Regions from separate parts of the Homo sapiens genome. Here all the other regions are linked to region 2. The links come from fine-mapping of genetic effects on gene expression. A gene starts in region 2. Each other region holds a variant in brackets. All regions are shown on one strand. Distances are from middle to middle.

What was found. PIP is the estimated chance that this variant, and not a neighbour inherited with it, causes the effect.
Region 1: its variant is fine-mapped to the expression of MLC1 in whole blood (TOPMed, PIP above 0.99).
Region 3: its variant is fine-mapped to the expression of MLC1 in whole blood (TOPMed, PIP above 0.99).
Region 4: its variant is fine-mapped to the expression of MLC1 in unexposed skin (GTEx, PIP above 0.99). The same link has a PIP of 0.9 or more in sun-exposed skin.
Region 5: its variant is fine-mapped to the expression of MLC1 in whole blood (TOPMed, PIP above 0.99).
Region 6: its variant is fine-mapped to the expression of MLC1 in whole blood (INTERVAL, PIP above 0.99).

What each region holds. Positions count from the first base shown.
Region 1 is chr22:50,116,320-50,121,562 of GRCh38, forward strand. It overlaps MOV10L1 (Mov10 like RNA helicase 1), which reads left to right. Exons shown (of 27, transcript NM_018995.3): 9 at 838-1,032; 10 at 4,183-4,297. Among named protein-coding and RNA genes, the nearest start is that of MOV10L1, 29 kb to the left of the region's middle. The variant AC/A (reference allele first, on the strand shown) is at 2,843.
Region 2 is chr22:50,083,388-50,088,630 of GRCh38, forward strand. MLC1 (modulator of VRAC current 1) reads right to left here and starts at 2,039. Exons shown (of 12, transcript NM_015166.4): 1 at 1,968-2,039; 2 at 1,339-1,574. The coding sequence starts at 1,515. RefSeq lists an enhancer at 1,687-2,311.
Region 3 is chr22:50,105,551-50,110,793 of GRCh38, forward strand. It overlaps MOV10L1 (Mov10 like RNA helicase 1), which reads left to right. Exons shown (of 27, transcript NM_018995.3): 4 at 2,586-2,698; 5 at 3,107-3,294. Among named protein-coding and RNA genes, the nearest start is that of MOV10L1, 18 kb to the left of the region's middle. RefSeq lists an enhancer at 273-382. The variant G/C (reference allele first, on the strand shown) is at 2,809.
Region 4 is chr22:50,167,386-50,172,628 of GRCh38, forward strand. PANX2 (pannexin 2) reads left to right here and starts at 3,346. Exons shown (of 3, transcript NM_052839.4): 1 at 3,346-3,571. The coding sequence starts at 3,346. RefSeq lists a silencer at 2,520-2,579 and an enhancer at 4,179-4,871. The variant G/C (reference allele first, on the strand shown) is at 2,725.
Region 5 is chr22:50,060,172-50,065,414 of GRCh38, forward strand. MLC1 (modulator of VRAC current 1) reads right to left here. Exons shown (of 12, transcript NM_015166.4): 11 at 3,863-4,027; 12 at 1-1,486. The coding sequence ends at 1,412. Among named protein-coding and RNA genes, the nearest start is that of TTLL8, 4.5 kb to the left of the region's middle. The variant A/G (reference allele first, on the strand shown) is at 2,537.
Region 6 is chr22:50,132,514-50,137,756 of GRCh38, forward strand. MOV10L1 (Mov10 like RNA helicase 1) reads left to right here. Exons shown (of 27, transcript NM_018995.3): 14 at 1,494-1,552; 15 at 2,017-2,117. Among named protein-coding and RNA genes, the nearest start is that of PANX2, 36 kb to the right of the region's middle. The variant T/G (reference allele first, on the strand shown) is at 2,670.

The sequences.
Region 1 (5,243 bases), 33 kb after region 2:
ACCTGTAGTCCCAGCTACTCAGGAGGCTGAGGCAGGAGAATGGCGTGAACCTGGGAGGCGGAGCTTGCAGTGAGCCGAGATCACGCCACCGCACTCCAGGCTGGGTGACAGAGCGAGACTCCGTCTCAAAAAAAAAAAAAAAGCCATAGGGGGGCACAAAGTGTAGTGTGGATGATGTAGCCCCAGTTAGAGCCACAGCGAGGACTGGGCAGAAAGCACATTAGATATAGTACCTATTTTTGGTCATGTCATAAAATTCTGACTTAAAATTGGGAATATCAAAATTTTTTCCTACTCTTATATGTGTTAGGATTACAAAAAAGACTATTGTAGATGCTTACTTTTTTTTTTTTTTTTTTTTTTTGAGACAGGGTCTCACTCTGTTGCCCAGGCTGGAGTGCAGAGGCATGATCACAGCTCACTGCAGCCTCCACCTCCCTAGGCTCCCACCTCAGCCTCCCGAGTAGCTGGAACCACAGGCACACGCCTCCATGTCCGGCTAATTTGTGTATTTTTTGCAGAGACAGGTTCATCCTATATTGCCCAGGCTGGTCTCAAACTCCTGGGCTCAAGCGATCTGCCCGCCTCAGTCTTCCAAAGTGCTGGGATTACAGGCCTGAGCCACCGCACCGGGCCTGTAGGTGCTTAATTTTATCTTGAGAAAATATTAATTACATAGCTTATTTTAGAAGATCTCTTTTTTCTCTGTAAAAAGAATTATTGAAGACTAAAGATGAGTCTTAACTCTGTCACTTTTCTTGTATGTACAAAGGAAAATTGTGTTGACTGCCTATCTTATTTATGACTAAAACTAAATTTCATTTTGTTTTTTTCAAGAAATCCTGGCCGCTGCAAGGAGCTCCTTTTGCTCTGTTTTTCCGATTTCCTAATTGGGCGATACCTTGAAGTAAATGTTATCAGTGGGGAGGAGTCACTAATTGCTGCGCGCGAACCATTTTCTTGGAAAAAGCTTAAAAGTTCACAAGCGTTAACATCCGCAAAAACTACAGTTGTTGTGACCGCACAGAAAAGGTACCATAACTGAAATGAGTGTGGCTCTTGGTCTGGCAGTTTTATCTGTGAAGGAAAAGCGGACGTGCACTGGCAAGCGGTGGCTACCACCTGGCTGGGGAGGTATAAAGGGGATGAAGCTGGGGTTCAAGCCTCTTTCCATGATTGTATTTGGGGGATGGAGTGCATTTCCACGGAGCTCTGAAGGTCAAGTTCTGTCTCTGCAGCTGCCCAGCAGCAGCGTGAAGCCCAAGGAAGACGGCCTTCACTCCCCCAAGCCCCACTCTGCTCTGGCAGTTCCAAGGTGGCTCTCAGAGCAGGCTGGCCTCACCCAGCTCCTGCCACCTCTCCCGTCCTGACGAGGCCATGGTGTGTAGTGCACGGCATCCCCGTGTCATTCGCACTGGGGGCAACAGGATTGTGGGGTCACCTGAAGCCTGTTTGAAGATGTGGTACCACTTAAGAATGGAGTTAGGAGAAGCAGTGTGTGATCTGGGACTTGTGGCTGGGGAACATAGGGACCACCCAGATTTTAACTGGAGGGTAGTCTCAGGAAAGCACTTCACATCCACGTGTTCTCTTCTGTAGTTATAAAACGAAAAAGCCCTGAATAGCAGGCTTTTTAAAGTGTAATGACTTAGTCCCGTGTGATGTGACTTTTCCTCCATCGGCTATAATAACTGATGGGTTTGAGCTCTGCTACTACCCCAGACCTCCCTGAGGGTGAGGTGGGTCACTTTTCTAATACTGAAAGATTCTGAATTTCAAATCACGTGTTGCCCCAGTTACAGTTCAAGATGAGGGATTATGGACTTCTACTTAGTTGCAGACTAAAGGGAAAACCTGTTACCAGGGAAGAATATCATGTGGTTGTTTACCTTTTAAGGTTAGACCATTGTTTGAATCACAGCACCACCACCAAGAAGCTGTGTGACCTTGGGCAAGTTTCTTAACCACTCTGAGCCTTGTTCTCATTGGTAAAATGATAGTCCCTGCCTCGTGTGGTTTGAAGATTGAATGAGGTCAGACATGTAAAATGTGCAGTTTTCTGGCACAAAGCAATCACTCAGTAAGCGAATAAGCAGTCATGATCCCTGGGCATATTATTATTGAGAAAAAGGGGCTCACTGCCTGATGCACTAGGGGCCATTGCTACGACAGTGGGTTTCTGAGAAAAGAAAAGCTTTGTATTGAAAACCAACCCCCAAGGAGACAGGAGTCAAGCTCAAATGTGTCTCTCTGTGCTGGCTTTAAGGCAGTAATTTTGTCAGAAAACGTTTAGTGGGTAGAATCTGGGATTAATAGGTGGTTGGTGGAAGGAAAAGGGAGGTCTGGAAAGGCCTTGGGTGTGCATAGTTACCCCTTCATGCTACCTCATGGGTCACATGTGCCAGTTCGGAGGGAGTTCGCATGAAACACGGTGGGAATCCAGGCTGTGACGTCAGTAAGCTCTGCACAAACTCCAGTTGTCCATCTTGGTTCCAGCTGATCTCAGCCAGTCCTTTGATGTCATAAGCAGGGGGAGACTCAGCGCTGGAGTTGTTTCTTATCACCCATCCTGCAGGCTCAAGAATTTCTGTTAGTCATCGGTTTCTTTAACTCTTTGGGGCACAGTTTCAACATCAAGGGGCTGTAGGGATGTAACCCAGAAAAGGAGCAGGAAAGTCCCTCGGCTGCCAGGCAGAGCAGAGTCCCCGAGGATCGAGTTTTAATGACAGGAGCCTTGGAGGATCCCTGGTTCTCATCTAGTGACACACCAAGCAGCTTTCTAGTTATCATTTGGCTTAACAGAAAGAGTGAAATACACAGAGCAACAGCCACAAGGATTTTA[AC/A]CCCCTGGTCAGTTACTTCCCCGTGAATATTAACATATTGTGTGGGAGCGTATCTAAAACAAGGACATCAGTTTCCTGCCACTCAGGTTAGTGACCCAGAGTGCCTGACCCGGGTTGGCTCGAGCACACCTGGAGCACCAGGTGTCTGGACCTGCCCACGCGGGCATTGGCGGGTGCCTGCTTCCAGAGCTGTCCATCCGTGGCCGCCTGTCACAGGTCCTGCACTTCCTGCTAGGACCCCCAGTGCCAGGCAACTTTGGCTCTTAGCTAGAGCAGAGTGTTCACTTAGCAGATCTGTTCTGGGGGGCTTTGTAGGCCAGCACACTCCCAGCCAAGTTTCTAGCCACCCATCATGGTAGGAACCACATTTTGTTAATCCAGCGTGTCTGTTGAGGCCACATGGTTCTGTTAGCTGTTCAGGCTGTTGACCTAAGCCTGTAGTGATCATCCTGGTTTCCCTTTACCTTGTTCGTGTTAGTAATCAATGCTTTCCAAATACACCTCGCATGTGAGCGCTGACATAACCCTCAGCACAAACCATGGGGAATGTCTTCACCCCGTTTCTCCTGTTGAGGGCTGAGCCAGTGGAACCCAAATTGAGATGACAGTGAATGGAATACGGAGAGCAATGTGGGCTTCTCTCTTGGGTGAGACTGCACTGAAATGGAGAGCTGGGAGGGAATGAGGGATAAAGGTCCAACCAACATCCTTATTTGCTGAGTTGAGTTTTATCGACCTCACTCTGACTTTTCGTTTCCCTGTTCTCTCCTGGCTTCTCCTCTCCTGTCTGTCCCTTTCCCATTGTTTCTGTTGCCGCATTGGGCTTGGCTCCAGAGCAGCGATGTTCTTCATCCTGAACAAACTGAATTTCCCCAGAGAAACCACAGGCTGGGAAACAAAACAAAAACAAATCGAAGGCAGGACCCAGACAGAGCAGCCTTTTCCTAATGTGTGCTTTGCAGGGATAGGCCCAGGTGGAGTCCTGATGTCAAATATAGTAGGAAGAGCTTAGCTCATAGAATGTTAAAAACAGCTGTTTCCAAACTCCTGGTTCCAGGAGATTCTGGGGGTTCCAGCCCTGTTTTCCCACAGCCTGTGCAGCTACACTTACCTGTTTACAAATAGTAGAGCACTTGTGGGAACTGTTTGAGGAAAGGATCCCAGAGCTAAAACGAAAGCTTCAAACCACTGCCTTAGACCAGCTATTCATATATCAGTTCTTCTCAGGAAATGGATGGACTTTGGTCTTCCTAAAATAGGAAAGGATGTTTAGGTAAGAATGTCTAGTGATACCTGGTGATAAAGACTTATTTTTAACTTGTGAACTTAATTTTTTAAGGAACTCAAGACGACAACTTCCAAGTTTTCTTCCCCAATATCCAATCCCAGATAGACTTAGAAAATGTGTGGAACAAAAAATTGACATCCTGACTTTCCAGCCATTACTTGCAGAGGTAGGAAGTGTCTCATGGCCTGTGGGGTGTTGGCATCTTCTAATGCTCTTGTTTTCTGACAAAGCCAGGAGGTTCCTTCTCAGGTTCAGACCTTCATCTGGCTTGTTTTCTTCACAGGTAGCTGGGATAACGAGGGTCACTGCCTGGCCGTGAGGGATGAGGCACCATAGCACTCACGCTGCCAGACCTGCTGTACACCAGGGGCTGGCATCCCACAGCCTCACTGGGGGTCACGCACAGGGCCTTTGGGGTCTGGAGCAGAAGAACTGAGGGATACCTCTGCCATCAGCCTGGCCTCTCTCGCTAGACTAGGAGGCCTTTGTTATGAGCAAGAAGTGTTCTAGCCTTTTACCATCATCCTGACAGAGCCAGCAGGGCAAGGGTCCAGGGGAGGAGAGCCCAGGTCCCCACCCACATGGGAGACAGAGGAGCACGTTCTGAGTGGGGTAGGTGGAGAAGAAAAGTTCAAGAAGGAAGAAAAGTCTATAAATTTGGCAGTTTGAGGGGAGAACATTGCCCTTTGTCCAGGAGGGTTTTTTTCTGTAGGGGTTTGAGGTGTTCTGAGAGTCCCCAGCTAAACTGGAGTTCCAGTGCCAGAGCAGCTGGCAGCCCTGTCCTAAGGAGAATGAAGGGAATGGGACCTAGGTGTTCACCATGCGCCCTTCAGGGGATCCTTTCCAAATACACCTCCTTGTTTAAAAAAATGTCCTTGTTTTACCAGGAGGACAGCTGATGCCCCATGACCGGGGTTCCTCACGCAGGAAACTTATTCTGGCAGACGCCCCAGTGGCTCTCGTCTGACCTGTATCCAGGTTATGCCTGCCTGATCATCTGGCACTGGGAGCCCAAACTTATGTTCCCCAATGCCAGGGAAAACCCGGCCTGGGCAGTGCTGGGTTCTTAGGATGGAAGGTGCAAATTCAATCCACTGCCGTGATAGAAACAA
Region 2 (5,243 bases):
GCCATGTCGGAGCATGGACCCCCCACGCTGTTATCTGGAGGAGAGAAGAAAGGGGATCTGCCAATATTTAGAGCAAGGAATGGCACCTCTCCCCACAAAATACTCCTGCCCCAACATGTTGTGCGTGCAGTCTTCCAGATCCCACACCCAGGTCCAGACACGAGACTGGAAAACAACTGCCCATCCCCCTCCGTCTGCAGAACCTAATTTCCAGATCTGGAAGAAGATCCCTCCAGGCAGGGGCTCCAGGCCCAGGGGCTCCTGAGCAGGGAAGACCCTAGCAGGAGGCAGGGAGGGTGCTCTCTCTCACGCACAGCACTGCAGGGGTGCGGTGGGGAGGGGGCTCTCTCTCACGCACAGCACCCCCGGGGTGAGTCTGAGGGGAGTCAGTATCAAAGGTCACTGGGACCCAGGGTCCTGGCAGAGGAAGCGAGGTCTGGGGCAGAGGGGATCTGGCCTGGGCGGGGGAGGGGCTGCGACCAAGTCCAGGGCACCAGGTGGAGGAGGGCAGAGCCCGGAGATGGCCACCACCACCCGGGAGCCGCCTCTGTCCCCAGCTCCGAGGCAGACGCCTGTCTTGGTGGGGCATGCTCAGGCCACGGGAGGTGGGCAGGACCACTGTGGGTGCTGCAGGGGCTGCCGGCGGAGGCCAGGGCACAGGGAGGGGAGAAATCACAGCCTGGATCTCATTCTCAGCCCAAGCTACACGGAACCGGGGGTCCCTGCATAGAGGCCTGTCCTGCAGCATGGCTCTGAGCAGCTGCACACACTCAGGCCCAAGTGGCTCCTCCAATCATCTCTGTGCCCACGACTGTGCAGGGAATGGCCAGGACCCCAGGGAAATCCCTCGGACATCTGGCGCTGCCCGTCCACCCCAGACCTGTTCCTTTGTTCCCCAGCTCCCTCCCAGCCGGCCCCTGAGGCCCTCCCTAGGAGGAGGAGGTCCCTGAGGTTCTCTCTGTGAGGGCCGACCTGAAGGCCTGAGACGCCTCCTCCCACCTTTGCAGGTGACCCCTCAGAGGACCCTGGGCCCCCAGAGCCGAGGGTCATGGAGACTCCTGGGGCCCATTCATGGCCCTGGGACTGTCCCTACCCTGGTGGGACTAAGCCACAACCTGGAGCAGCTCAAGGCTGGCACAACAGACACCCATAAATTAATAAAAATAATTGTGAAAACACAAGCAAAACAAGCTCGTCGGCATCCAAGAGTTCTGCAGCAGCAGGGTTAGTCTGAGAGTTGCTCTCTCTGTCCCACCTGGGGCTCCAGGGCGCTGCAGTCCGTCACCAGAGGGACCAGATGCTCGTGGCCCTCCAAGGGCTTAGTGTGGAGCTACTCACCCCCATCAGCACAGAGAAGACCCACGTCTTGTGGCTGAAGCAGGGGGGCAGTCTCTTCGACAGCTGCAGGTCGCTCGGCTTCGCGTCTGGGGCATAGCTGGCGGGGTCTTGCCGGCCCCGCTCCAGCGTGGGCATCCGGTCATAGGCCAGCTCCTCTCTGAATGGCTCCTGGGTCATGGCACTTGGGGACACCACAGCTGTGCTGAATGTACAGCCACGTGTCACCAGTTCTTTATCTGGAATAAAATTATCATCGGCTTTGGCCACTCTGAGGAAACTTCAATAAGTTGTTTCCAAGAAATATTTTTTAACAAAAGAAATATTGTTCATACTGAAGTGCTCTAAATTTGAAGAAGAAAATGAGCACTTGAATCTAAAAGTGAAAAAGAAATAACTTTCCTAGAAAAACGGACCTGAATAGTCTGGGTTCAGGGTGAGATTCTACACTTTAAATGCCTCATTGATCCATCTGGGCCCTCCAGGTGCAACACCTGACAACATCCATCGGCAACTTCGTCCATGAACACATCACGCCGGGGACTCAAGCACGTTAAACTGCTCCAATTGGTAGCTAAACGAGAGATTGCAAAACATGCCTCTACTCAACGGCTTAATGTCTGAGCACTTACCTCCCCCGCTGCTCTGCCGTTGGGAGCACTGGTCTCTGGGTGAGGGACTTCCAGCAAGAAGTATTCACAAATGAAACAAAAGCTCAGCAAACTTGAGCTGAAGGCAGGGGAAGGAGAGCTGCTTCCTGAATATCAATGAGGGGAGGAATCGGGTGGATCGTAGAAATGTTTCGTGTTGGTTGTGTAAACCACTGCCTCGGAGCTGTCAGAACCCAACTAGGAAAGGAAGGGGCCCTGCCTGTGCCACTCGCCACAGAGCTCGGGTCTCTCAGAAGAAAGAAGCGTCCCTAAGAATAGAATCCCACCAAGTACACATTCTGAGCAGGCTCTGTTTCTGAAACGTAACTGTTTACTCGAAGGTCTTCTACATCTTTCCAAGTAGCCTTTTTCCATCCCCCACAGCCACACGGTGGGAACCTCCTTCACACGGTCACATAAGCATTCACGCACTCGGCTTAGCTGTGTGGCCTTGGGCGGCTCCGGATTCGGCCCTGTGGTTTGCGTGGGCAGCCCGGATGGCTGGTGGGCCCGGTCCTGCTGCCCCCTTTATCTCTGCTCACCAAGCAGAGAAAAACCACAGTAATGTGTGTCGCCCAGAGACACTGGCACCCTGACAACTACAGCAACGGGTTCTTTGTGCACATTGTAAAAAGGCTCAAACTAAAGTTTCTGAAAAACCAGCTCCTTAAACCATGAACCCACATTAAAACTTGAGCAAAGTCATCAGGTTCCAGACCATGGGATGTTCTGTTGTCTTCGTTTCAATCAAGCAAGAAGCTTTTAGTAAGCTTTTATTAGCTTTTAGTAAGTTTTTATTAGCTTTTAGTAAGATTACACATACAAGCATCCCTGTCCCAGTGAAAATGCCCACTAAATCACCTCGATCAAAATGCGTAAGTGTCAAGTACGCATAAATGCAGCTCAAAACACTTTGCTCAACCTCACCCCCACAGGAAACAGCAGTGATAAATTTTTAGCAATAAACGAAAGTTTAAGCTATACTAGTATTTTAGGGTTAGTTAATTTTGTGCCAGCCACCACAGCCAATGTTCTGTTGTCTTCATTTCAATCAAGCAAGGATGAGAAATAATTTTCAAAAACTATAATCTGTGAAGTCAAGAACTCATTTTAATGGATTGAGAAACCTCCCAAACTTCACTATCTTTTAAAGCGATAAACGGGATTAGTGGGAGTGGGTCCAACTGGATCGAATCCTCCTGTGTTTCTTTTTGTTTGGAAAAAAATGTTAATCGGATTTCAACATTTTTTTCTTTCAAAAGTTGCTCTCCACTTAGAAATACAAACAAGCTGCCCTGAACCAGAGGTTGCAGAGCAAATCCCTCAGCTTCCCAGATCATAAGTCATCACTTGAGAAATGCTCCCAAGTTTCTGTTGGCAACACTAGTTTCTAGAACAGGCCCTGTTCTTTCATACAATCTTCCAACAAATTCTTGCTCCTAAAATGCCCTTCATCCCTCTGCCTGCTGATGTCCCATCATCATTCAACATTCAACAAACATTTATGGGGTGGACAAAGAAGTGACGTCCTTCCTATAGGCTGTTTACATTCATTGGGGGCACAGGAGTGCACAGGATAAACAAATTAGTGTGTTATACAGTGATATGGTTTGGCTGTGTCCCCACTCAAATCTCATCTTGAATTGTAATTCCCATAATTCCTACATGTCGTGGAAGGGGCCCGGTGGGAGGTAATTGAATCATGGGGGTGGTTACCCCCATGCTGCTGTTCTCCTGACAATGAGTGAGGTCTTATGAGATCTGATGGTCTTTTATAAGGGGCTTTCCCCGCTTTTGCTCAAGACTTCTCCTTCCTGCCACCTTGTGAAGAAGGACATGTTTGCTTCCCCTTCCACCATGATTGTAAGTTTCCTGAGGCCTCCTCAGCCCTGTGGAACTGTGAGTCAATTAAAGCTCTTTCCTTTATAAGGACTTGACTCTAAAATTACCCAGTCTTGGGTATGTCCTTATAGCAGCGTGAGAACAGACTAATGCATCCAGTGACACACATGATTTCCTCTATGAGGGAAAAGAAGTCAGGGGAGAGAAATGAGGGGCTGCTGTTTGCAGGGGCCAGGGCAGGCCTCAGTGAGAAGGAGGCAGGGAGGGGAGGCTGGCAGAGTTGAAGCAAAGGCCACAGGTTGGGGAAGGCAGGCGAGGACCATGCAAGGGGGATACAGGTAGGACAGCCAGGTGCCAGCACCTGTGGGTATGGAGACGACTCTGCTTCAACTCTGAGACAGACCTGCTGGAGGGGTCTGGGCAGAGCAGCATCCGGTCACTCACTGGGTGGAGAGCAGGCTGGGGGGTGGGAGGAGCAGGTGCTGCCTGGCATTGAGGTGGCAGTGGGCAAGTGGTGAGGAGGGACTGGGCTCTGAACAGGGTTTGAAGAGCGGACGCAATCTGCTGTCAGGGCGACGTTGCTGAGTTCTGTCTGAGCAGTGAGGACAGAGATGAGAAGACCAGGGTGGAGCAGGTGTGGAGCGAGGATCTGGAGTTCCATTCTGGACATGATGAGGCCGAGATGTCTGTGGGCATCTGCCGGGTCTACTGAGTCCAGAATCCCAGGGAGTGGCCCGAGCTGGGGAGCTGAGGGGCAGCCCTGCAGGCACAGCACCCGCTGCGAGCTGCCCTGGCAGGGAGCCCATGAGCCACCAGCCCTCATGCAGCTCGCTCTTGTTTCCAAGCTAATCTCCCACCAACCAGTAGGTCCCTGGGACCCTGCTGGCTCCTGTATGTGTTCCAGCACCCAGCCCAAGACACAGGCTTAGCGGGGATTTGAAATGCTAGGGAGTGCGCCACTCTCTCCCTTCCCACAGCAAGAACTATCAGTACACTCTGCATCCATGGACAGGCAAGGTCCAGGCTGTCATCAGACTGACAGATCTGACCTAGGAAAATAAAGCTATGTCAATCAAAAATAAGTCGGGGCTGGGCGCAGTGGCTCACACCTGTAATCCCAGCACTCGGGAGGCCAAGGCGGGTGGATCACCTGCGGGTCAGAAGTTCGAGACCAGCCTGACCAACATGGTAAAACCTTGTCGCTACTAAAAATACAAAAAAAAAAAAAAAAAAAAAAAAAAAAAAAAGCCAGCGTGGTGGCGCACGCCTGTAATCCCAGCTGCTCTGGAGGCTGAGGCAGGAGAATCACTTGAACCCGGGAGGTGGAGGCTACAGTGAGCTAAGATCATGCCACTGCATTCCAGCCTGGGCGACGGAGCAGGACTCCATCTCAAAAAAAAAAAAAAAGAAATAATA
Region 3 (5,243 bases), 22 kb after region 2:
TTTATTTTCAATAACTACAATTTGCAAAAGTTATCAAAAGCTGAAGATTTGGGGTTCTACATGTATTAAATAAAGATTTTCTGCTGACTTGAAAAAAGTAAAACCAAAATTTAGAGATCTCACTTAAAAAGAAAGTAAAAGGAGCATCATCACAGGACCTTTTGGTTGATTTACAGAACGGTTCCTCAGGTTCCAGCATTTGTAAAATCCAGGTTGGGGGAGCAGCAAAGAGAAAATGAGGGCTGCCAGCCCCCAGTGTCCGTGTGTGTGTTTCGTTGTCATGAGCTTTGTCACAGGAGTTGTGCATGTATGTATGTCATAGAAGTTCAGGAACTTGTACGTGCTTGTCTTCCAGCTGGCTGCATGTCTGGAGGATCACGTGTGCGCTATAGCCATCTGAGTGCATTTCTGCTGTCTCAGCTTCCTGACCTGCAGGGTCTGATTTGTACTGTGGTGCTTTACTCCGTTAACATCCTGTTATCACTGTAGAAACATATATTTTTATCTCCAGTGTTGAATTTCTAAACTTAATTTACAATGGCATTCACCATAATGTCAAATATTTCTCCTTCAATAGAAAGGTCTTCTGAAATCTTTACTTTTGTTTGCTTGTTTTTGTTTTTTAGAGACGGGGTCTTGCTCTGTCACCCAGGCTGGAGTGCAGTGGCACAATTGTAGCTCACTGCAGCCTGGAATTCCTGGGCTTAAGTCATCCCACCTTAGCCTCGTGAGTAGCTGGGACTTCAGGCTCATGCCACCACACCCCAACTAATTCTTTTTTTTTTTTTTTTTTTTTTTAGAGATGGGATCTTACTGTGTTGCCCAGGCTGGTCTCAAACTCCTGGGCTCAAGTGATCTTCCCACCTCAGCCTCACAAAGTGCTAGAAATCTTTACTATGATTCCATGATTCTGCTGGAAAAAAAAATTAATTGAATTTAACTTTTTTTTTCTTTAAAGTAACTGTACAACGTATAGAACTAGTACATTAATAGCTATTGCTTCACTTTTCATTTATGTCCAGGGAAATTGAGAATAAAAATTGGCAAAATTCTGTTAATTGTGGAATAAATGAAGGCATGGTTTACAAAACGCTGTATAAATGTGTCTCCAGAGTTGCACGTATTAAATTGTGGTTTTAGGACATGGTCTTTTTTTTTTTTTTTTTTTTGAGACGGAATCTCGCTCTGTTGCCTAGGCTGGAGTGCAGTGGCTCAATCTCGGCTCACTGTAAGCTCTGCCTCCCGGGTTCATGCCATTCTCCTGCCTCAGCCTCCCGAGTAGCTGGGACCACAGGCGCCTGCCACCACGCCTGGCTAATTTTTTGTATTTTTAGTAGAGACGGGGTTTCACTGTGTTAACCAGGATGGTCTCAATCTCCTGACCTCATGATCCACCCGCCTCGGCCTCCCAAAGTGCTGGGATTACAGGCGTGAGCCACCATGCCCGGCCAGGACATGGTCTTCTTAAAATACTCCCTGACCTTGAAGTCAGTGCCCTAGCATATTTTAGTGTCTTCTGTTTTCTTTCTTTTCTTTTTTTTTGAGACGGTGTCTCGCTGTGTCACCCAGGCTGGAGTGCAGTGGCGTGATCTCAGCTCACTGCAAACTCCACCTCCCGGGTTCACGCCATTCTCCTGCCTCAGCCTCCCGAGTAGCTGGGACTACAGGCGCCTACCACCGCTCCCAGCTAATTTTTTGTATTTTTAGTAGAGACGGGGTTTCACCGTGGTCTCGATCTCCTGACCTCGTGATCCACCCGCCTCGGCCTCCCAAAGTGCTGGGATTACAGGCGTGAGCCACCGCGCTTGGCCTCTGTTTTCACATAGACAGTGATTTCACCATGGCTCACATGTCGAATGTAGGTGTCAGCTGCTATTTGTGCTGTTACGTGTTCATCACCAGCTTTCTGGAGACACAAACTCAGTATTCAATTATACACTTTTTTTTTTTTGAGCTTCCAGAGTGCTTATTGCAAAATAACAAAAAGATTTTAACTACCTGTACCATGGCAGACCTGTGCAGACCATCTCTCTGTTCTGTCAGCACCACTCAGCCACTTCATGTCACTGAACCTGCAGTTTTCCACCAGCTGCGGGAGGCCCAGCGGTGTCTTGCGTCCGGCAGGCCATGGCTTGGACCACAGCACAGCTCTCTGGCACACTGAGGGGCTGGCTGGACCACTGAGTGCTTCCCTCACACCTGAGTTCAGGTGTCTCTCTGTTCCCGAACACCGTGTGTGTGTCCCTGACAGGGAGGTGCCACAAACACTGCAGGACGGGGGAAGGGGGATGCCACCTGCCCTCAGATGTGCCACACGAGGAGGGACTGCCACGAGCATGCACACTGCACCTTCTAGAGCCTGGAGGTGTGAGTGAGAGGCTCCAGCTCAGCTCATTTTATTGCAGTGGTTAATAATAATACTTCAGGGTTTTTTATTCGAAAATATGTTTCTCACAGTAGTAGAAAGTGCCTTTTAAATGTTCAAATGTATCCTCAGGTATGATAGAAATGATTTCAGTGCACCATGACCTCAGAATAACTTGTGCACTTTAACACTACCATGGCTTTTTTCCTGGCGGTTTTAGGCTTCGAGCCCTGCAAGGGAGACTGGGTGGAGGCTGAGTACCGGATCCGGCCTGGCACGTGGAGCAGCGAAGCCACCTCAGTGAAGCCACTGAGATACAAGCGCGTGGACAAGGTAGCGTGCCGACTAGTGGCTCCTCTCTGTGCTTCTGGCAGACCTGCCATCAGGGGTAACTTGCACGGCCCAGGCTTCTCCTGCATGTGTTGGAAGCCTGGAAAAATAAA[G/C]CTTTGTCATGGCCAAAGAGGAGTGTGTTTTCCTATTGACAATGCTGTGTTTCGTTTGGAAACAATAACTCCTAGTGCTTGCATACCTGAATTCTAAGGTCTGTAGCTTATGCAACAGTGCTAAAATGTTCTAAGGAGAAAGGTGTGTTGGAGAATCACTGGACCAGTGCTACGGGATGGCGGACTTGAGCTTCCTGGTGCAGCTTGTGTGCTTTGGGCTGACTTGGGCGTGTGTTAGAGCTGCGCCCTGTCGTCATGCAGCATCTGCTTCCTGTGACGCTCAGCTCTCTGCTCCCAGGTCTGCATCTCTAGCCTCTGTGGAAGGAACGGGGTGTTAGAGGAAAGCATCTTCTTTACCTTGGACTCCTTGAAACTGCCAGATGGGTACACACCCCGGAGAGGTGACGTGGTCAATGCAGTGGTGGTGGAGAGCAGCCAGTCATGCTATGTCTGGAGGGCACTTTGTATGACCCTAGTGAAGAGGCGGTAAGAAAATGCTTTTCTGGCCAGGTGCGGTGGCTAACGCCTGTAATCCTAGCACTTTGGGAGGCTGAGGCAGACGGATCACCTGAGGTTGGGAGTTCAAGACCAGCCTGACCAACGTGGTGAAACTCTGTCTCTACTAAAAGTACAAAATTAGCTGGGCGTGGTGGTGCTCGCCTGTAATCCCAGCTACTCGGGAGGCTGAGGCAGGAAAATTGCTTGAACCTGAGAGGCAGAGGTTGCAGTGAGCTGAGATTGCGCCACTGCACTCAGGCCTGGGCGACAAGTAAAACTCCGTCTCAAAAAAAGAAAACGCTTTTCTTCTTTGGGATGTGAAAGGCCCCATATAAGTATATTTTGAAGAGTTACTTTAATAAGCCAAATAGTAGACATTTCAAGCCCTGAGTTGTTGGGGTAAGAGGAGAGCATCCCTAGCACTTCAGGAGGCCGTGGCAGGAGAATTGCCTGAGCCCAGGAATTTGAGACCAGCCTGGGCAACATAGTGAGACCCCATCTCTACAAAACATTAAAAAATTAGCCAAGCGAGGCCGGGCACGGTGGCTCACGCCTGTAATCTCAGCACTCTGGGAGGCCGAGGCGGGTGAATCATGAGGTCAGGGGATCGAGACCATCCTGGCTAACACGGTGAAACCCCGTGTCTACTAAAAAAATACAAAAAATTAGCCGGGCGTGGTGACGGGCACCTGTAGTCCCGGCTGCTTGGGAGGCTGAGGCAAGAGAATGGCGTGAACCCGGGAGGTGGAGCTTGCAGTGAGCCGAGATCGCGCCACTGCACTCCAGCCTGGGCGACAGAGCGAGACTCCTTCTCAAAAAAAAAAAAAAAAAAAAAATTAGCCGAGCATGGTGGTGTGCACCTCCGGTCCCAGCTACACACGAGGTTGAAGCAGGAAGATTGCTTGAGCCTAGGAGCTTGAGGCTGCAGCGAGCTGTGATCGTGCTACCGCACTCTAGCCTGGGCAACACAGCAAGGCTCTGTCTTAAAAAATAAAAAGAGAAAGGAAAAGGAGGCTGGTCATGGTGGCTCACGCCTGTAATCCCAACGCTTTGGGATGCTGAGGCGGGTAGATCATGAGGTCAGGAGTTCGAGACCAGCCTGGCCAATATGAAGAAACCCTGTCTCTACTAAAAATACAAAAATTACCCGGTTGTGGTGGCAGGCACCTGTAATCCCAGCTACTTGGGAGGCTGAGGCAAGAGAATCACTTGAACCCAAGAGGCAGAGGTTGCAGTGAGGCGAGATTGCACCACTGCACTCCAGCCTGGGTGACAGAGGAAGACTCTGTCTCAAAAAAAAGAAGACTGTCTTGCCGGGCGCGGTGGCTCACGCCCGTAATACCAGCACTTTGGGAGGCCGAGGTGGGTGGATCACAAGGTCGGGAGATTGAAACCATCCTGGCTAACATGGTGAAACCCCATCTCTACTAAAAACACAAAAAATTAGCCAGGCGTGGTGGCCGGCGCCTGTAGTCCCAGCTACTCGGGAGGCTGAGGCAGGAGAATGGCGTGAACCCAGGAAGCGGAGCTTGCAGTGAGCCGAGATCGCGCCACTGCACTCCAGCCTGCACAACAGAGTGACACTCCATCTCAAAAAAAAAAAAAAGACTGTCTTTTGGAAGCTTTCAGCCATCTCTATGGTTGACTGAAGGTGGAGTTAGGGGTCGCTCTTCATCCTTCATCTTACATTGGTGATTGCTGTTTTGGGTGGATTTTTCTGTTTTGTTGTTTCACATTTTGGCATTTAAAAAATGCATTGGATGTAGTTGGTTCTTAAAATTATTGGATTTCTGGCTGGCCACAGTGGCTCACGCCTGTAATCCTAGGACTTTGGGAGGCCAAGGCGGGCGGATTGCCTGAGCTCAGGAGTTCGAGAACAGCCTGGGCAACACGGTGAAACCCCATCTCTACTAAAATACAAAAAATTAGCCAGGCGT
Region 4 (5,243 bases), 84 kb after region 2:
GTGGAGCTTGCAGTGAGCCGAGATCGCGCCACTGCACTCCAGCCTGGGCAACAGAGCAAGACTCTGTCTCAAAAAAATAATAATAATAGTAACAATTTTAAAAAGCTGGGCATGGTGGCGTGCATCTATAATGCCAGCTACTTGGGGGGTCAAGGTGGGGGGATTGCTTGAGCCCAGGAGTTCAGGGTTACAGTGAGCTCTGACCAGTGATGCAGTGCTCAGGGTTTGAAGAGAGCGTGCACACAAACCGCTAGAGATAAACTCAAAGCACCTGGAAGCTACACCCGCCCCCCCTTCCCCCCGAGAATGGCAGATACTAGAAGGTGGATAGGGCTGAGAGCTGGAAAGAAGACAGGGATGGTGAGAGCATGGACTGGCCGAGCACTTCTGGAAAGCATGGAGAGGCACCCATGCGAAAGCAGAAAGTGCATCTGGAAAACAAAGGCAGCCACCCAGCAGCCACACTCGGGTCGCTCGGAGGGGCTGGAACTCACTGCACTGGGTTATCTGGGAGTGACTGAGTTGTCGGGGAGGGGGGGTGACTTGGTTATGTGAGGGGTGGCTGGGTTCTCTGGGGTGATGGTTATCTGGGGGTGACTGGGTTATACGGGATGGGTTATCTGAGGGGTGCCTCGGTTATCTAGGAGATGACTGGTTTATCTGGTTACCTGAAGGGTGACTTGGTTATTTGGGGATGATGATTTTATCTGGGATGACTGAGTTATCTGGGGGTGACTGAGTTATCGGGTGAATAGGTTATGTGAGAGGTGACTGGGTTATTTGGGGTGACTGGTTTATCTGGCAGTGACTGGGTTATCTGGGGTGAATAGGTTATGTGAGGGGTGCCCGGGTTATTTGGGGTGATTGGTTTATCTGGCAGTGACTGGGTTATCTGGGGTGAATAGGTTATGTGAGGGGTGCCCGGGTTATTTGGGGTGATTGTTTATCTGGCAGTGACTGGGTTATCTGGGGTGAAAGGTTATGTGAGAGGTGACTGGGTTATTTGGGAGGTGACTGGTTTATCTGGCAGTGACTGGGTTATCTGGGTTGAATAGGTTATGTGAGAGGTGACTGGGTTATTTGGGAGGTGACTGGTTTATCTGGCAGTGACTGGGTTATCTGGGGTGAATAGGTTATGTGAGAGGTGACTGGGTTATTTGGGAGGTGACTGGTTTATCTGGCAGTGACTGAGTTATCGGGTGAATAGGTTATGTGAGAGGTGACCGGGTTATTTGGGAGGTGACTGGTTTATCTGGCAGTGACTGGGTTATCTGGGGTGAATAGATTATGTGAGGGGTGCCCGGGTTATTTGGGGTGATTGGTTTATCTGGCAGTGACTGGGTTATCTGGGGTGAATAGGTTATGTGAGGGGTGCCCGGGTTATTTGGGAGGTGACTGGTTTATCTGGCAGTGACTGGGTTATCTGGGGTGAATAGATTATGTGAGGGGTGCCTGGGTTATTTGGGGTGATTGGTTTATCTGGCAGTGACTGGGTTATCTGGGGTGAATAGGTTATGTGAGAGGTGACTGGGTTATTTGGGAGGTGACTGGTTTATCTGGCAGTGACTGGGTTATCTGGTAGGGGTGACTGTTATCGGGGGGTGAGTTGGTTTATCTGGGGTGCCTGGGTTGTCAGGGTGACTGGGTTATCTGCCAGGGCTGATTTATCTGGAGGTGCCTGGGTTATTTGGGGTGACTGGGTTTATCTGGGGTGACTGGGTGGTTGGGTGCTGGGATTGGATGTAGCTGAACTGCCTGCCTCAGGATGAAGTTTGCTGGAAGTCAGGGGCTGGCATCCCTCAGAAAACATGCAAGGATCTTTAAAAACGCAGACGGCGTGAAAGCTCAAAGCAGACACATCCCCTACGCAGCCCAGGGAGGCAGGGGGACCTCCTGGTTTGCTCACAGCAGTGGCCGGGCCTGTGAACACGGGCTCAAAATACATTTTTGGAATGAATTATTGAATGAACTTAAAACTCCAATCACACTAAATCTTTTATATGAAAGATCGTGCACGTTCGTCCTGGTATAGTGGGAAGGGGACCTGCACGAGGGAAAACGGCTGCCTCGAAGAGGCAGGGACCACGCGGGATGCGCCCGCGTCTGAAGCCAGACCCCCGGCTCCCCGAGGGAGAACAGGACGGAGGGCGGGGCTGTGGGGAGCGGAGGGAATGAAGGTCAGGGAGGCGGCGGGGACCCCCTGAGCTGGCACAGGCCCCGGGAACGTCTGTGGAACAGGGGACGGGATGGGGCGTGGGGGAAGGAGGTGCGGGCTGCAGGAGCGGGGGTGATGGGGTCACTCACGGCGGCGGGACTGGGGGTACTGGGTGGGGGGGTCGGGTGGGGCCGGGGCTGCAGTGGAGGGTGTGGGGCGGGGAGATGCCCTCATTGCCCGCGCACTGGCGCCCGAGCCCAGAGAAGAGAGCGCCGGCTTCCCCGCCAGTGGCCGCAGCACCCCAGGAGCGCGGGAACCTCCGGACCCACAGCGGGGCGCGGCCGGGGCAGGTGGGGGGCCCAGGCGAGGAAGCCCCCTCTGCGCCCTGGGCTGGGCGAAGGGCCCTGCGATGCGACGGGGGCAGCCCCAGCGCGCGCCCAGTCCTCACGTCGCCACCGAGCGGCGCCCCCGCCCCAGCCCGGAGCCCCGCAGGGCCGCCCCCACCCCTGCCCACCCTCCCGCGGGCCGGGGCAGCCCCCCGCCAGCCACCCCGCGTTCCCAGGAAGAGG[G/C]ACCGGTCATTACTCATTCATGTCCTTTCATTTCATTTCAATATTTTCTGCAAAGTCATCGCCCGCGCCGCATCTGCGTGGCGGGGGGCGGGGTGGGGCGGAGCCACGCCGCGGAGTCGCCGCAGGTAAACAGCCCCCTCCCCGCGGCGGGAGCGGGGCCGCCGGCCCCAGGCAGGGACAGCAGCCGCCGCCCGCGCTCCGGGCCGGGATCCCGCCGCCGCCCCCGCCGGAGGCACGCGCCAGGGCGGGGGCCGGGCTGCGGCGGAGGCGGGCGGCTCCGGTGCCCCCCGCCGCCGCCCCGGCCCGGCCCGCCCGCCCCCTGACCCCGGGGGCGGCGGCGGAGCGCCCCCCAAACCCCGCTGCGGGCTCCGCGCCCGGCCAGCCCCGCACCCGCCGCGCGCCTCCGGCTACTCCCATCCCCCGGAGCCCCCCGCTCGGTCCCGGCGTCCCCTGCCACCCTCTCCCGCGGCCCGCGGCCCCGTCCCCGTCCCGCGCCCCCACGCTCCCCGATCCCCGCCCCCGCGCCGCGCGTCCCCTCCCGCCCGCGCCCCCCTCGCCGGGCCCCGCCCCGCGCCCCCCGCCCCGCCCGCGCCCCCCGCCGGGCCGCGCCCCCCGCCCCCCATGCACCACCTCCTGGAGCAGTCGGCGGACATGGCGACCGCGCTGCTGGCGGGAGAGAAGCTGCGGGAGCTGATCCTGCCGGGCGCGCAGGACGACAAGGCGGGCGCGCTGGCCGCGCTGCTTCTGCAGCTGAAGCTGGAGCTGCCGTTCGACCGGGTGGTCACCATCGGCACCGTGCTGGTGCCCATCCTGCTGGTCACCCTGGTCTTCACCAAGAACTTCGCAGGTGAGGCCGGCGGCCGGGGCGCGGGGCGCGGGCAGAGGGGGCGTCCGCAGGTGTCCGGGAGCTGGCGCTTCCCGCGTCCCCGGCGGCTCCGTCCAGCCGCGCCCACCGTGGCCTGGCTGCGTCCGCGGCGTCCCAGGCACCTTCCACAGCCGCCCCCATCCTAGCAGGTGTCGCTGGTCGCACAGACCCCTCGTCTCTATTTTATTGTTGTTCTTCCTTCCATTCGTCCGCCCATGGCCGCGGGTGGGACTAGGCCTGTCTGGACCCAGGGGTCCCAAATGTCATGAGACACGGGGTCTGGTTTGGAGAATGTCACAAGCAGCGCCTGAGGGGATGCAGGGTGGCCAGGTGGGGACCAGGAAAGGCCGGGATGGGTGTTGACAGCAGAGAGCTGATTACAGGGGCTGGTGGAGCTGCCGGGCAGGGTTCCCAGGCTGGACTTGGGTGGAAGGAGGGCAGAGAGAGTCTCTGAGAGGCCCAGGCCCTCCACCCCTCAGGCAGGGCGAGGCCTCTCCGGGTGCACTGGGGGCCTCCGAAGGTTTGAAGCAGGGGGGCTAGCATGGGGCAGGGCCACGTGTCAGAGCAGGGAGCCTGGAGCTCCTGCAGGGAGATGGGGGCTGGACCAGGGCAGGGACCCGCGCTGGTTAGATCAGGACCTGTGGGGGCACTTGAAGCCACCCAGGCGAGGCAGGAAGATGGACAGAGCAGCCAGCCTGCCTGTGAGCCTCTGCGGGGTGGGGTCCTGGTGCCTCTGCCCTCCCCAAGGAGTGGGGCGAGACAGGTGGAGCCGAGAACTTCCTCCCCTGGGGTCTGGGCCAAGGCAAGGGGGATCAGGGTCTCCTGGCCTGTGTGGCCCAGAGGTACTAGTCTGCAGCGGGGAGGGGTGTTGGGACCCTGGGGCCCTCTCTTCTGCAGCCTCCAAACCTCAGCAGACCCTGCCTCAGCACTGGCGCTTCCCAAATCTCCCAGATGCCTTGCCTTAAGGAGTCCCCGTGGCCTGGAGACACCAGGCCTGAGGGTGGACATTGGCCAGGCTGTCTGATCCCACCCAGGGGTGGAGGAGGCCTCTGCTGGTCTCCTCTTCGACACTGGAGGCCAGACCCCGGGGATTAGAGGACCCCTGGGGTGGGCACACAGCACACTCTGCAGAGCAGGGAGCCCAGGCGTGCGGTGGGGCCTTGGGGCAGGCCCAGCATGTCCAGACACCACGTGTGTTCTCTGTGTTTGTAGCAACCAAGTACCGCAAACTAGGCAGTTTCAAACAGCAGACATTTATCTCTCATGGTTCCGGAGGCCAAAAGTCCAAAATCGAGGTGTCGGCAGGGCCCTGCTCCCTCCCACAGCTCTAGGAAAGGGACATTCCAGCCTCTTCAGCCTCTGGTGCTGCCGGCAATCCTTGGGCGCCTTGGCTCGTGGCCGTGCCACCAGTCTCTGCCTCTGTCTTCTCATGGGCTTCTTCCCTCCCTGTCTGTGTCCAAATTTCCTTTTTTTTTGAGACAGAGTCTTGGTATGTCGCCCAGGCTGGAGTGCGGTGGTGCGATCTGCAACCTCCACCTCTCGGGCTCAGGTGTTCTTCCTGCCTCAGCCCCGAGCCCCCAGTAGCAGGGACCACAGGCATCCCACACCACACCCAGCTAATTTTTGTGCCATGTTCCCCAGGCTGGTCTCAAAC
Region 5 (5,243 bases), 23 kb before region 2:
AGAAACAAAACCATTGTGAAGGAAAACACCTGCTGGAAAGTAATTATCAAAGTAACAGCATTCCAGTTTCACAGTCGCCCCAACTCACTGTGGATTTACTGCCGTCAGCTGGGAGGACCCAGGCGCCCTCGGGACGAGGAGACGCAGGGAAACCCACTCCTGGCCATGGCACTACCCAAAGCCAGTGTTATTCTCACACCCAACTGTCCCTGCAGCCTGGCAGGTGGGCAGTGACCGCCTGGGCTGTACCCTAAGACCCCAAAACAGCGGAGATGGAGAAGACCGCTGCCCTGGGGCCTTCTCAGTGAGGATCAAGACAAAGTACTTGCTAGGAGGTAGAGGGCGCTGGGTGAACCTGTGAGAATTCCTGGGCTCTGACCTGATCTGTCCTGCATTTTGAGTAATGGGAGCAAACACAGGAGGGAGGGGCTCAGCTTCCCCCGGTCACTGGGGCCAGGGAGACGTGGTCCAGCCGGTTTACAAAGCCTTGGATGCAGCCCCACCCCCAAGAACACTGCCTGTCACAGCAGCGGCCACGTGGCACTCCAAGCTGGGCATGACAGTGCCCGGGACGTGGGCAGCGGCCATGTGGCACTCCAAGCTGGGCATGACAGTGCCCGGGACGTGGGCAGCGGCCACGTGGCACTCCAAGCTGGGCATGACAGCACCCAGGACGTGGGCCGGCCAGTGTGGCGGTGGATCCCTCTAGAATGACTGGGTCTAAGTAGGGAGACAGGGCAGGCGACCCGGCGTGGACTGGTGTGGATTTCACCTGGGAGAGCAGCGGCAGCCTGTGTCGCTTGCGCCCAGGCTCTGGAGGAGGGGCCCCTGCGGCTCCCGGGCCAGGACAGAGGCGCCCAGCCCTGCTCTCACTGTCCAGGAAGAGCCGCTGGGCAGCCTGAGCCTGGGGCAGGTGCACCTTGCAGGGAAGTGGGTAAGATCCCACTGGGCTGACTGAGTACCCGGGACAGACCCTAAGCGTGGAGGGAGGAAGCCCGGTCAGAGTGGGCAGGAGACGCAGGGACCCACAGTCTGGTCAGGTCCAGAGAGCCCACTCCAGCCCAAGCCATGAGAGAGGCAGGAAGAGGAGCTGGGGCCAGTTCAGGGGTGGGGCTCTCAAGAGGCCGAGCCGGGGGCCCTTCCTCGGCCTGGGAAGTTGCGGCCATGCTCCTGCTGTTACGACACGGGAGCCACTCGGAGCTGACTGATCTCACTGAGGCACAGACTAGCCAACATTGGCCTATTTTAAAATTAAACTACCCTAGGAAGTGAAAACCCCACCTGCAGCCTGGTTTGCCCTCACACAAGGGAAAAGAGGTGTTAGAAGCAGTAGCTCAGGGCGATTAGGGGTTGTGCGTTTCCATGCTTGGGGCCAGGCTGGGCGCTGCCACCCGGTTTCCGCGTCTGGGGGTCACTGGGCCATTTGCACCACGACGGCTCTCCAGGCTTTCTCCTTGTCGAACTCCTTCAGGGGGCTCCTGGCCACCTGCAACCGAGACAGGAAAGGTGTTACTTCACCAGGGCCACCTGTGCGGCGGGAAGGTGGACACGCCACTCGGCCACAGGCAGCGAGCAGCCAGCGTTCAGAAGTTTTCTTCGAATGTGAAGGAAGTGGGGAAACTAACCCCTGGGCCTCTGTGGAAAGAGATAAAAGCCTTCACTTCCTCAGTGTCCCAGAAACGCCTGCATCCCCCCCCGCACACACGGTTTCTACCGAGCCTGGGATGGAGCAGCCCTTCACTCGGCCCCTTGCCCTGGCTCTGGGGCGGGGAGCGGGGGGAGGCCGCCCAAGGTTGGGCATGTGCCTGACGGCTGAGGAAGAAAACACTTAAGGCAGAGGTAACCAGATGCCTCCAGGCAAAAGGGAGGACAGCGCCAGCCCCAGCTGTCCACCCTGAGCCCCAGTTGTCCACCCTGAGCCCCAGCTGTCCACCCTGAGCCCCAGTTGTCCACCCTGAGCCCCAGCCACCCACCCTGAGCCCCTGGGCCCCAGCCGTCCACCCTAAGCCCCAGCCATCCACCCTGAGCCCCAGCCGTCCACCCTGAGCCCCAGCCGCCCACCCTGAGCCCCAACCGCCCACCCTGAGCCCAAGCCACCCACCTTGAGCCCCAGCCGTCCATCCTGAGCCCCAGCCGCCCACCCTGAGCCCCAGCCGCCCACCCTGAGCCCCTGGGACCAGCAGTTCTGGGATCTGGGGAGAACACCTCATGCGTCTGACTCTGGGCCTTGCTGGTCACAACAGAAACCCAGGCGGGTCTCATTTCAGGCCCAGGGACTGCCGTCCTAGCAGGGAGACTGACCACAGCCAGGAAAAATGGCAGCAAAGCAACTGAGGAGGCAGGTTAAGGGAACAGCAGTAGGGAGGGTGGAGGGTGGGGGCGACGGGGTCAGCTGAGAAACGAGCCAAGGGCAAGAGAGCGTCCTCCGGGACTTAGCGGGCACTGGAGGCTCTGCACCAAGGTTCTGAGGCCGGTGGTGTGCTGAACACAGGAGGGCAGGGTGTGCAGGGCAAGAGCAGCGGCCGGTCCGCCCAGG[A/G]TGGCCTAGAGGTGGGGCAGGACTCAGAGCCCCGCTGAGTGGCTGCCCAGGTGTTTGGGCATCAAGGTGACAGTCCTAGTGGTCACTGCACCTGAGGGTCAGCGGGCAGGTTTGCCCAGGGGAGCACCACCAGGACCCGTAGCTCGGTGGGGGGAAGACGCTGAGCCTCTGCCTTTCAGATGTGGGGGCAGCAAGACAGTAGGCAGGGCCCGGGGGAACATTGTTCAGGCAGTGACAGCCAGAAGTTGTTGACACCCCAGCTTTACGGAGCCCCATGTGCCAGGCTGGGTGGGCATTGCCTTCCCTGCAGAACCGCGTCCCCACCAGAGACCAGGGAAGGAAACTTCAGGACCTGTGGGAGTCCTCACAAAGCCCTCTTCTGTGTCTCTAAGAGCAAATCTGAAAGCATTAAGTCCAGAATATTTCCCAGGGATGGGTCTGGGTTTACCCAGGCTTTGTGTTTGTATTTTTAAAAGACATTTTACGGCTGGGCGCGGTGGCTCACGCCTGTAATTCCAGCACTTTGGGAGGCCAAGGCAGGCGGATCATGAGGTCAGGAGTTCGAGACCAGTCTAACCAACATAGTGAAACCCCATCTCTACTAAAAATAGAAAAATTAGCTGGGCTTGGTGGCGGGTGCCTGTAGTCCCAGCTACTCGGGAGGCTGAGGCAGGAGAATTGCTTGAACCCAGGAGGCGGAGGTTGTGGTGAGCCGTGATCGCGCCACTGCACTCCAGTCTGGGTGACAGACTGAGACTCCTTCTCAAAAAAAAAAAAAAAAAAGAAAAGAAAGACATTTTACTTCTTCGGGGTTTTTCTGGGGTGTTTTTAAAAATACAAAGTGGCACAATGAATCTTCGAGGGCCACGTCGTGTGGCCCTCGGAGGCCCTCACCAGGACAGGAGCCCCCACCGCAGGCCTCTCACCTCCCCAGCGGGTGCTCCTGTGGGCCACTCACCTCCCCAGCACCCCTGAAACCCACAGGCCTCTCACCTCCCTGGCTGAGCACCCCTGTGGGCCACTCACCTCCCCAGTGCCCCCACCCCACAGGCTTCTCACCTCCCTGGCTGGGCCCCCCATGGGCCACTCACCTCCCCAGCACCTGCACCGCAGGCCACTCACCTCCCCGGCTGGGCACCCCTGTGGGCTACTCACCTCCCCAGCACCCCCTCCCCCTGCAGGCCACTCACCTCCCCGGCTGGGCACCCCTGTGGGCCACTCACCTCCCCAGCTTCCCCCCACCCCACAGGCTTCTCACCTCCCTGGCTGGGCACCCCCGTGGGCCACTCACCTCCCCAGTGCCCCCTCCCCCTGCAGGCCACTCACCTCCCCAGCCAGGCGCTCCTGCGGGCCGTTCTGGGTGTCCCAGGATGCACCCTGCAGCCTTGCACTGACCTTGAAGCGCACGCACTGGATGGCGGTGCCCGTGTTGAGGCCGGCCTGCAGCAGGAGCACTAGCAGCAGCAGCAGCAGCAGCACATCGTAGGATGGCTGCAGGCGGAAGGAGGTGTGAGCAGAGTGGCCCAGCCGCCCTCCAGCCCAGGAGACCAAAGCTCCCTCGTGCCCACGGCCTTCACAAAGAGCAGGTGCCAGGGCTCGAGTCGGAGCCCCAGTAACCCAAACGCATTGCTATTTCAACAACCTGATGATAATCATTCTAGCTCAATTAATGAGGTCAATTCTGCTTTAAATTCCATCAGCTTGTGTTCAACATACAGGAATAAAAGTGACCGAGCCACTGCCAGGCCCCGTGGACAGTGCTGGCTGCTAGTGGTCAAGTCGCTCCACCCCTCCTGCTCCAACACGCGCAAGGCTCAGTCCCAGAGCCAGAGAGAATGTCCGCGGGAGGCAGAAGCGCTGACCGTTCCGTGTCAGCAGGATCCTGAGCGGAGGAGACAGGGGGCAGCCGTCCTGGGGGGATGGGGTGCACAGACCCCCAACAGCTTCACCCCTGAGCACCAGCTGCTAGGAAGGAAGGGGCAGGAGGCAGCGCGGTGAGCTCGGCAGGGAAGAGGATGGAGGGAGCGGCCGAGGATGCAGGGGGCCAGAGAGTGACCACGGAGCACCCAAAACCCTCTGTGCCCATGGATAGCTTTCCCGTGTTGGCTCAAGAAAAACAAAGCAACTAAATGTTAACACACAAAAGAGCCAAACATCTATCCAATGTCACTGCTACAAAAAGTAAGAGAAGAAACAGAACGAACAGCTCTTCTCAAGTTAACATAAAACTTTTTTTTGCGACAGTCTCCCTCTGTCACCCAGGCTGGCGTGCAGTGGCGCGATCTCGGCTCGCTGCAACCTCTACATCCCAGGTTCAAGCGATTCTCCTGCCTCAACCTCGCCAGTAGCTGGGATTACAGGTACCCGCCACCACGCCCAGCTAATTTTCGTAGTTTTAGTAGAGACGGGGTTTCACCATGTTAGCCAGGCTGGTCTCCTAACCTCAGGTGATCTGCCTGCTTCGGCCTCCCAAACTGCTGGGATTACAGGCATGTGCCACTACGCCCGGCCTGGATTTTAAGTAATTATTAGAAAGTCTGGTACTTGTGTTCCCAGCTGGAGTTTACCCTGGAGGATGGTAAAGGCATGGGCCCCATGTGGTCTTTGCTCTTCGGTTGTTGAGACACCATTTATTGCAAAGCCTATGCTTTCCTCAGTCTCAAAAAAAAAAAATCCAGAGCCATTAAAGAAAATATTAATCAACTTA
Region 6 (5,243 bases), 49 kb after region 2:
AGGTCTTATAGATCTTTTGTCAGTTATACCTATTTAAAATTTTTAAATGGCTGTTATAAACAGTAAATTTAACTTAAATTTCTAATTGCTTGTTTCTAGTATTTATAAAAAGCAATTGATTTTTGTATGTTTACCTTGTATCCTGCAAGTCTCCTAAACTGAATAGCTCCAGTAGCTTCTCCTAGAGTCTGTAGAATTTTCTACATATATAATCATTGATTCAAAGAATGACAGTTTTAGGTTGGGTGTGGTGGTTCACACCTGTAATCCCAGCACTGTGGGAGGCCAAGGCAGGCGGATCACCTGAGGTCAGGAGTTTGAGACCAGTCTAGCCCACATGGGGAAACCCCATCTCTACTAAAAATACAAATAATCAGCCGGGCGTGGTAGTGGTCACCTGTAATCCCAGCTACTTGGGAGGCTGAGGCAGGAGAATTGCTTGAACCCAGGAGGCGGAGGTTGCAGTGAGCCGAGATCACGCTACTCATTCCAGCCTGGGCGACAGAGCAAGCCTCCGTCTGAAAAAAAAAAAACCAAAGACAGTTTTACTTCTTCTTCTCTTATTTGGATGCTGTGTATTTGTTTTCCTTGCCTTCCTGCGCTGGTTGGAACTTGTGTGCCAGTGTGGAATAGAAGTGGTGGCAAGTGCTGCACTGGCTTTGTCCCTGGTCTTAGGGGCAGGGCTGTCAGTCCTGAGCGAGTTAGTACAGCGTGGGTGGTAGGTTCCGTAGTGGCCCTCTATCAGGTTGAGGAGATAGATTCTTATTTTAGTGAGTTTTTAATCAAGAATGGATATGGGGCCAAGTGTGGTGGCTTACACCTGTAATCCCAGCACTTTGAGAGGCTGAGGTGGGAGGATCACATGGGCCCAGGAATTTGAGGCTTCAGTGAGCTCTGACTGTGCCACTGCACTCCAGCCTAGGCAACAGAGCAGAGTCTCTAAAAAAAAAAAAAAAAAGAAAGAAAGAATGGGTGTGGGATTTTGTCCCATGCTTTTTTTTTTGGCTTCTTTGGTATTCTCTAGTGGTTTTTACAAAAATTTTTTTAGACAGAGTCTCACTCTGTCACCCAGGCTGGAGTGCAGTGGTGCCATCTCAGCTTACTGCAACCTCTGCCTCCCAGGTTCAAGTGATTCTCATGCCTCAGCCTCCTGAGTAGCTGGGATTACAGGCGTGCACCACCACTATGCCTGGCTAATTTTTGTATTTTTAGTAGAGGCAGGGTTTCATCATGTTGGCCAGGCTGGTCTCGAACTCCTGACCTCAGGTGATCCACCCACCTCGGCCTCCCAAAGTGCTGGGATTACACACGTGAGCCACCGCGCCCGTCCTCTCTAGTGTTTTTCTGTTCTCTATTTCATTGATTGTTGGATTGTTGCTGTGATTTTTTTATATTGACTTAAAGATTGTATCATAAAATTTTCATTACCTTATGCCAGCCTTAATATTTCTGAATGTAAGGTTAGTTATTTTATGTGGTTTTCTTTCCTGCAGGACCACAAGCAGACGGTGTCACTTTGCACTTGAACACGTCATCCACTTAGGTGTAAAAGGTATTACTTTTATAGAATGATAGTGTTACATCTTCACAGAGTATTTTTATAGGCTTCATGTAAAATTTTGTGTAAAATAGTCTCTTCAGTCATAATATTAGAAGTAAAACTTTTGTTATATTCATGTTTTTAATTTTCTATCAAGTTTTAGTGTTTTCTTACTATTTCAACTTAGTGAATAACTAATAATAGCATGCTTAAATAACCGAAAATAAATTTATCTTGCTCGCTTTTCCCTTCATAAATGTAATTTATGAATTTTTACAGATGGGCAAATAAAGGGCTTTGTTGTGAAGAATATGCAGTACTAATAATGCTATAATTTAGAAACAGTATAACAGGCAGGTTAAGAAAGGAAGGGAATAGAATATTAATTGCTTTAGGGTCAGCCATAAACAACCTCTATTAATATTTTTTTAGCTTTTTAGTTATACCCGTGCTCTTACCATTTTTTGTTTTAAAAGTGTTGTTTCCAGAAGAAATTATTTTACAGTCTCCACAAGTGACGGGAAATTGGAACCATGCACAAGACACCAAAAGCAGTGGACAGTCCACCAGCAAAAAGGTAGTGCTCAGCAATGTGGCTTTCTCTACACAGGGGATGGCTCAGCGACGTGGCTGTCTTTACATAGGGGGTGGCTCAGCGGCGTGACTGTCTCTACACAGGGGATGGCTCAGCGATGTAACTGTCTACACAGGGGGTGGGCGTTTCCTTCTCGGAGTATTAGCGCTTAGTTGACTGGAGTATTAGAGCAGTGTGGTTCACAAATAACTCAAAATTGCAGTTAAAATAAAGTGAACTAAAATATTCAAAAATAGATTTAGTGTAAAGTTTATATGCAAGGGCTAAGATGCAGGGCTAAGATGGCTACAATATATTAAATAGGGGAAGCAAAGTACAGATGTTTATATGACCTTAGAGTTGGGTTTTTTCTTTTTCTTTTTTCTTTTCTTTCTTTTTTTTTTGAGACAGAGTCTCGCTCTGTCACCCAGGCTGGAGTGCAGTGGTGCAATCTTGGCTCACTGCAACCTCTGCCTCCCAGATTCAAGTGATTCTCCTGTCTCAGTCTCCAGAGTAGCTAGGACTACAGGCATGTGCCATCACACCCAGCTAATT[T/G]TTGTATTTTTAGTAGAAACAGGGTTTCACCATATTGGTCAGGCTGGTCTCGATCTCCTGATCTTGTGATCCACCCTCCTCGGCCTCCCAAAGTGCTGGAATTACAGGCGTGAGCCACCACACCCGGCCTTAGAGTTTTATTTTTAAATTATATGGTTTATGTGTACACTTAGGTACATTTATGTGATTGTGTATGCATGGAAAATGTCTGGAAGGATACACACCCCGCAAATTGTTAACATTTGCAAACTTTGTGAATGTTGCAAAGATATTTTATAAAAACTTCTAGGCCGGTCGCAGTGGCTCACGCCTGTAATCCCAGCACTTTGGGAGGCCGAGGCGGGCAGATCATGAGATCAGGAGTTCAAGACCAGCCTGGCCAAGATGGTGAAACCCCATCTCTACTAAAAATCCAAAAATTAGCCGGGCATGATGGTGTACACCTGTAATCCCAGCTACTCAGGAGGCTGAGGCAGGAGAATCACTTGAACCCAGGAGGCAGAGGTTGCAGTGAGCCGAGATCACGCCACTGCACTCCAGCCTGGGCAATAGAGCGAGACTCCATCTCAAAAAAAAAAAAAAAAAGCTTCTATAATCCAGTCACTCCATAAATAGTAATATAGTGCCTATTACATGCCAGGTATTGTCCTGGGCTCTCAGTATATTTTTGTGAATACAATAGAAGTGGTTTTATTTATCTTCATGTTTCTAGTAACAAGAAAATCATCTGTGTCATGGTGGAGCTTACAACTTATTTTGTGCTATTCAAATTTGGTTTTATGAGCATGTTTTCAATGTATAACATGAATTTTTAAATTATATCTAATACTCAAAAATGCTCACCATTTTATAGTTCCTCCCCCAAAATGCAAAAATGATAGGTTTAGAATGCCTATACAATCATGGAAAATACGACAAATGAAGCAGCAAGAGGTTATCCTTGAAAGTCATCTGTGGCATATTTCATAGTTGATCTCTTTTTTGTTCTGCAAATAGAAAAGAGTCTTCCTTGGACAGTGCTTTTCTTCTCCGTCATCACCTCATTACTGGTTCATTCTACTGCCTGATTCTCGGGGAGAGTCTGTGGTGCAGATGGCATGTGAGATCAGGGAGGTGTTACTATTTAGGTGGGCACATTCCTAATTGACTGTAGGTTTTAAAACCTGAAACTTTATCTTCTTATGGATTAACTAGATTGAAAATAAACTCAAGAATATTTCATATGTCAACCAAGATAGAATTTCAGGGACCAGATTTATCTTCCTTCCTGAAACAATAAAAAATCAGACAAACTATATGGAACAACAATTTCAGACATTAACATCAGCTATCATAGGACAGGGATTCCTGAGAGAGGAAACAAATGAGGTGACCTCATGGTTTTCCCAACTCACAGCCTTCCGAGAGTGTCTAGGCCAGAGAGCACCAAGAGGGAGCCCAGGCGGAGTGCAGTGACCTGAGTACAGAGACAGCATTTGGAAGGGTGGGGAGGACAAGGGGGATAAAGCTGACAGAGTAGAGTGCTGGGGAGAGGGCAGGGGACAGAGAGCAGCTGGGCACCTACAGAGATTCCTTCTTGAGTTTTCAGCTGAGCATTGATCAGTGCATGATGTGAGTAAAATACCCAGGCCTGGAAAAGAACCAGCTGGAAGGAGGAGCAAGAACAATCCTTAAAAGTTGACACAGTGCCAGAAATAGCTGTGCCCACAGCCAGAGAAGAAAAACCTCGTAATTCACATGTAGAATCCATGGGAGGGTGTTGTCTCAGGAGCGTAGAAAGTCCAGCCTTTGACTGAAGGCTGCTCCGGCCCAGACTGACAAAGTATGATAGCCTCAAAAGAAGCAAGCTGTTCCCAAATAATTGGATTACATCCCAGAACAAAGTTTAAGAATATTTATAGGAATATAAAATTATCCAGCACCCAGCAAGGTATAAAATGGACACTGACATCTGGTTACAAAATGAAAAAGTGAAAAACGTAACCCAAAAGGAGAAAATTTAGTCAATTGGAACCAACCCCCCCGAAATAACATGGTGGAATTAGCAGACAAGGACATTAAAACAGTTATAAATATGTTCCATGTGTTCAAGAAAGTAGAAGACATGAGCAGGTTAAGTGGAGACACGAAAGATATATAAAAGACAATTTTATCTTCTAGGAATGAAAAATTCAATGCCTAGAATGAAAAATATATTGGACAGAATTATCAGCAGACTAGACAATGCAGAAGGAAAAATTAGTGAACTTGAAGACGGAGCAATAGAAACTATCTAACATGGAACAGAGGCGGAGGCTGCAGTGAGCCGAGATCGCGCCACTGCACTCCAGCGTGGGCAATAGAATACAGCAAGACTCCATCCCAGAAAAAAAATTAGCTGGGTGTGGTGGCATGTGCCTGTAGACCTAGCTACTCAGGAGGCTGAGGCAGGAGAATCGCTTGAAACCAGGAGGTGGAGATTGCAGTGAGCCAAGATCATGCCACTGCGCTCCAGCCTGGGCGACAGAGCAAGACTCTGTCTCAAAAAATACATATGTATATACACATATATATATTTTATATATATACATATAT